Linked DNA regions of Homo sapiens: region 2 is linked to region 1. The links come from fine-mapping of genetic effects on gene expression. A gene starts in region 1. The other region holds a variant in brackets. All regions are shown on one strand. Distances are from middle to middle.

Region 1 (2,927 bases):
AGAAAAGCAAATAGTCTATATAATAGTGACATACTACTGTCTTCCTTCCTGGCTAATGAGGTAATGGATGTGTTGGTTTATAATAAGGACGCAGTAAATGGTAGTTATTGTTATATTAACTATTTTACAGCCTACCCTTCCAAACTTGAATTAAATTTCTCTCTTTGCTCAATCATCATTCCCAAGGAAGGATTTTGTTTTTAAAATATGTTAAGTATTCACACATTTCTTTTCATCTCAAAGTAACAAACCGACTTCCTTTCAGAATATTGTAAAACTCTGAGTACACTTTTTTGATTAAAACTCCATTAACTTCCTACATCATACTAAATACCCCTTCTTATTCCTTAGGGTCCTCACATGAAATCTAGGGTTCCCTTCTTATAACTCCATTCTTAGAACTCTCTCTCCTCCAAAGTTACCTTTGGCCCTTTCAGTGGGGAATGCAAAGGAAGCGTGATACTTTTCTTTGCAGAACTAGTGACCAACTGAAGGAAAAAGGTCATTTAGCAGTAGATAAGCAATACAAAAGGCATCAATTATTTTAATTTTCAGCTTCTTGTTCTGATATTTTAATAGGAAAAAGTTCCAACCAAGCACCTTAATCACAGAGAAGAAGACCAGATGTCACATCACAAACATGTAATATCCTTAGCACTCATAACCATCATATAATTCTACAAAGAGCTCAAGGGTTTATAGTATTCAATTGTTTTACATTCTGAGAAACCGAAGAACCGAAAAATGTATAGTAAGTAGTAAATTGCCTACTCACGAGGATATAACTCAAAGAATATGCCCATGTCTGTTGGCTTGGTGATGTTGAGCTGCTCGAGAACAGTCTGGTCCGTTTCATACTCAACAAATAATCCAAATAAAACAATCATGGCAATTTCCAGGACTATAGCCATGAGAGGGAATGTGAACCTCATGTTTGTGGCAAAGGACAGAGGCACACTGAGAGCTTCACAGGCTGTGAGATGTTGATAAGAACAAAGGACTGCTCTGTGTGTGGAATTTGACTGCATGTTCAAGGCACCCCAATGACATCACAAGAAAAAAAAAATGGGCAAGACTGATTAAAATGCCCCACCCATTGGGGAAAATTATGCTCTGTAATCTAATTGTCGTTCTAAATGTTGATCTGAAGAATATGCAATGAAATTGTGAGAACCTGGATGATGCCAACAATCTATTGCACAGGCCTCTAGAATCATGTTTAACTTAATTCAGTAGACATTTCTTGAGGGCTTATTGTATACCAAATATTGTGGTAGGCTTTGTAGAAGGCATGAATCTAAAGCAATATATATAATTGGTCTGTTAACTTCTTGAGAAAATTAAGAATCTAGTTGGGAAAACATAAATATAAGTGAATGATTATATAAAAACAAATATGTGATATAATAGTGGTTATAAAAGTATTATAAAACATAAATAAGGCAGTGAAACTTTTTGCCTTAGGCCAAGAACATTAGCATATAAAACAATATGGATGTGAGAACTAGAACATAAATAGGGTTTTTCAAGTAAAACAGATAAGAGGGAATGATATAAATCTTGGAAGAACATGGCATGTTTTGGAAACGGCAATCAGTCAAGCAAAGCTGGAATGTAAAAGAGATGAAGAGAAAAGGAGGAAGTGGCAGAGATAATGTTGTCATGGAGGTGGCTGTGTTGTAAAGACCCTCACATTCAGTACCGAGGATGCTAGATGCTAAATATTATCCCATGAGCAATGGGGAATATATAGGACTGTAAGCAGTTTTATGTACTTATGAAGTTTTTGACTCCTTACTCTGATTTACGCAAGTGAAAATATGGAAATACACAAATGAGTTGTGATATATCTTTTAGTCTTAAATAGGAAGAGAGTAAACTTAAACAGGAACATAACTAATCTATCATCCTTATAGATAGTCAAGTGTAAATAAGATGCTAAGCAATTCAAAACTACCATATAGGTGGAGGAATTCTTGTCTCCTCTTTGGAATTGTTCTCATGGCAGAATAAACCTGTTTTTGAGAACTAAGAGCTACCAGTTAAATACAATTTCTTTCATGAAGCCCAATTTCCAAAAGATTCTATGCAGAATTTGGAGAGAGAGTGCAACTGACTGCCAGGATACATACATTGTAATAAATATTTATAAAACAAAGCAGCAGGATTTTTTGGTCTTTCTGGTATGATTTTCCACAGTAGAACATGATATGTTAGGACTAAGTGATATTTGAAATTTTATAAATATACAGACACTTTGAAAAATGACTATTTCCATTATTCGTTACAGCATAGTACAAGAGGAGTGGGTTCACATGCTTAGCTATGAAAATACATGTGTACATCTCACACTTTAATTTTTGGTTTTGCAGCAGCCTAAAGAGTGTTCATGAGAACTCCAACAAATCCTAAATGAAAAGTGTATATGTTAATAAACTATGCATAAACTTGTGAAAACCAAGTATCAAATAATAAATTGCAAGAACATCTAAACAATATCATAAACCAATGCGGTTTTAAACTCTTTAATAAAAAGTGACACAGTATATTAAACAATCCAAGACCGATGGCATCTCTCTTTCTCTGGGACATTTCCAGCAGCTCAGCAACCACTCAACACATGGGGAGTAGAGGATTTTACTCATATAGGTGATGGGACTATGCCAGCACTTGACTTCAGCCTGTTCAACTTCGAGGAATTCAGATTTTTTGCCTTATTCTGAATGTAGACATTTGTATTGAAATAAGCTGCATTGTCTACCATCTGGGAAATTATTTCTCTTGTTCAGTTCTTCACATAAGCTTCTCTTTGTAACTGGAAATCTTCCCACATATTCTCTGCTCCCTGTCCTATATACATCATCCATCATTCTTCAGTTTTCAGATAAAATGATACTTCCTCAGAAAAGCCTTCATTGATCTCCCAT
Region 2 (2,927 bases), 71 kb before region 1:
ACCCAGGCTGGAGTGCAGTGGCACAATCTCAGCTCACTGCAACTTCTGCCTCCCTGCTTCAAGCAATTCTCATGCCTCAGCCTCCAGGGTAGCTGGGATTACAGGTGTGTATGACCAAGCCTGGCTAATTTTTATTTTTATTTTTATTTTTTTGTATTTTTAGTAGAGATGGGGTCTTGCTATGTTGCCCAGGAAGGTCTTGAACTCCTGGACTCAAGTGATCTGCCTGCCTTGGCCTCCCAAAGTGCTGGGATTACATGCGTGAACCACTGTGCCCAGCCAGGAGTGAATACTTTTGATCTCAGCAAGCTGGCTGTATGCCCAAACAATTCTCTGTTATTAACCATTGTTTTTTTAGTTATTCACAGAGTAAAACCATTGCCTCATGTTTAGTATGATGTGATCCTCACTTAAGAGTTGAATTTTCTTTATTGCAGTTTTTTTCATTGCCATTTTGGTGACGTCCATGATCTCAGGACAAAGTGTTATAAAGTACCTTCCCCTCACAAACACACATCAATTATAACTACTGATTGGTGACAGAAGGACCAGTTTCATGTTTGAAAGACAAAACCCTAAAGCTCTAAGTGAAGGTTCTATTTGTGAAATGTTTTATTTATTTGTTGGATGGAGGATGGCAGTAAGGATGTTTCCACTACAGCAGTTAGCATAGGAACTCATTCTGATGTGACATGAGAATGCTCTGTGATGGTACAGCTGACCACCTAAATAATCTCAAACCGCTTGGCAGAATACTGTGGCCGGCGAAGTGCAGGAAGGAGAAATTCATGCTACGGACAAGATAACAGTGAGAACTGAGGCTCCGGCGCATATGCAGAGCCTAGGCCTGGGCAGAGCGTAGGTCTTATGAGGCACTGGTCAAGTGGTGAAGCCAACGTCCAGGCTTAGGTCCAGGTCCAGATGGGAGACTCCAGGGAGTGGCTGGAAGGTGAACTTTGCAGGAGGCTGGTGAAAAACAGGAAAAGCTCCTTCCTGCGAATGACTCACCAGCACACATCCGGCGACCTGGACACAGACATGCTGGGGGGTTATAAAACATATTGGCACAAAAATCTGAAAAACAATCTAGACAAAGACAAAAACAGTCCACATGTGATTTCTTCTATTTTGGAATGTGTAGATCACTCACTTAACTTTCCCTGAGCTTCATGAGCTCTGCCTTCCAGTTTAAGCCCTGGAAATACATAACGAAGCACAAAAGCCAGCTTTGCTTTATGAGCTCCATGGAAAAGACACACAATAAAATGGTCATATTTTAATGTGAAAAATGTTAATGACAAGTAAAGCCAAGTGTGTCAAGGGGACATAGTAAAGGGGCCTAATGTGGCTTGGAGAGTCAGGGAGGGCTCGTGCTTTGTACAACGGCTTTGTATCTAAACTCTCATACAAAGGGTGAGAAGTTGGCCAGGCAAAGATGGGGAATTTGTGGAAGGGGTCATGAAAGATTTGAGGGCTGGAAGAAATTTCACTCTGGCTAGGGCA[T/C]AGAGCGCGAACTAGGTTCTCAGACCCGAAGCCAGAGGAATGAGTAGAAACTACATCACGGGACCTTGGAAACCAACGTTAAGAAGCTGCCAAAGCACCTTGAGGAGAAAGACTTGATTAGTATTATATTGAAACATGAATTATTTGGGAAATGTCAAGGTGTCTGAAAAGTGGAATGAGTTAAAATTGAGGAAGGAAGCATTCTAGGTAAGTTTTTATTAAAACTACTGTGGTCTTAATGATTATACATATGTATTTCTTAAGACATTGTGTTGAGAATGGTATTTTTTTTCAGCTTAAGTTTAATGAGCTTTGTGGTTGTTTTACAGAGCAAAGATAGCCTACTGCACTGAAATGTAGTATTATTAAATGTTTCTACTTCCAGTCCTTCAGAAGACCCAACCAGGTCTTTTCATTCCTGCTCCCATAGTCTGTAAATCCTAAACTTGCTGCTTGCTGCTTGTCAGTAAAATGTTGCATATAATTTAGTTAGATTTCATGTTTTTGTTTCTTTAATTTACAAGGTAAGTGTGATAAGTGTACTGAAGACTTCAAAGCTCAGAAAAATATTTAAAAGCAGATATATTGACCAGGTGCAGTGGGTCACCCCTGTAATCCCAGTACTTTGGGAGGCTGAGGCAGGTGGATCACCTGAGGTCAGGAGTTTGAGACCAGCCTGGCCAACATGGTAAAACCCTGTCTCTACTAAAAGTACAAAATTAGCCAGGCATGGTGGTATGCACCTGTAATCCCAGGTATTCCAGAGGCTGAGGCAGGAGAATCACTTAGAACCTGGGAGGCGGAGGTTGCAGTGAGCCAAGATCGCGCCACGGCACTCCAGCCTGGGTGACACAGGGAGACTCTGTCTCAAAAAAAAAAAAAAAAAAAAAAAGCATTATTTATATAGGACTTCCAGCAAATAGATTAACTCCAAGAATGAGAAACATTTTCTCACTATGTCTGATAACAAAGCAAGCTTTTTGGGAGGTGAAAGGCTGCAGATAGTGCCTGGAAATGCTTGTTAAATAAGAGCTAACCATTCAATTCACAAATGTATGTTTCATAGCAACAAGATTGATATGTTTAATGTCAATGTCGCTTGAGCTTGGCTCTGAGATTTGCTCTCAAGGGGTTTGCTGTGTAATAGGTGAATCTTACAGTAAATAGGTAGTTTTTTGTTGTTGTTGTTGTTGTTGTTTGTTTTTTTTTTTGGAGACAGAGTTTCACTTTTTCACCCAGGCTGGAGTGCAGTGGCACAATCTCAGCTCACTGCAACCTCCGCCTCCCTGGTTCAAGCAATTTTTGTGCCTCAGCCTCCTGAGTAGCTGGGACTACTGGCATGAGCCACCACCCCACACTAATTTTTTGAATTTTAGTAGAGACAGGGTTTCACCATGTTGCCCAGGCTGGTCTTGAACTCCTGA

The links. PIP is the estimated chance that this variant, and not a neighbour inherited with it, causes the effect.
Region 2: its variant is the best candidate, but not a certain one, in a credible set for the expression of RHAG in breast (GTEx, PIP 0.50).

Annotation. Positions count from the first base shown.
Region 1 is chr6:49,635,881-49,638,807 of GRCh38, forward strand. RHAG (Rh associated glycoprotein) reads right to left here and starts at 959. Exons shown (of 10, transcript NM_000324.3): 1 at 776-959. The coding sequence starts at 932.
Region 2 is chr6:49,565,113-49,568,039 of GRCh38, forward strand. It overlaps the pseudogene CYP2AC1P. Among named protein-coding and RNA genes, the nearest start is that of C6orf141, 16 kb to the left of the region's middle. The variant T/C (reference allele first, on the strand shown) is at 1,504.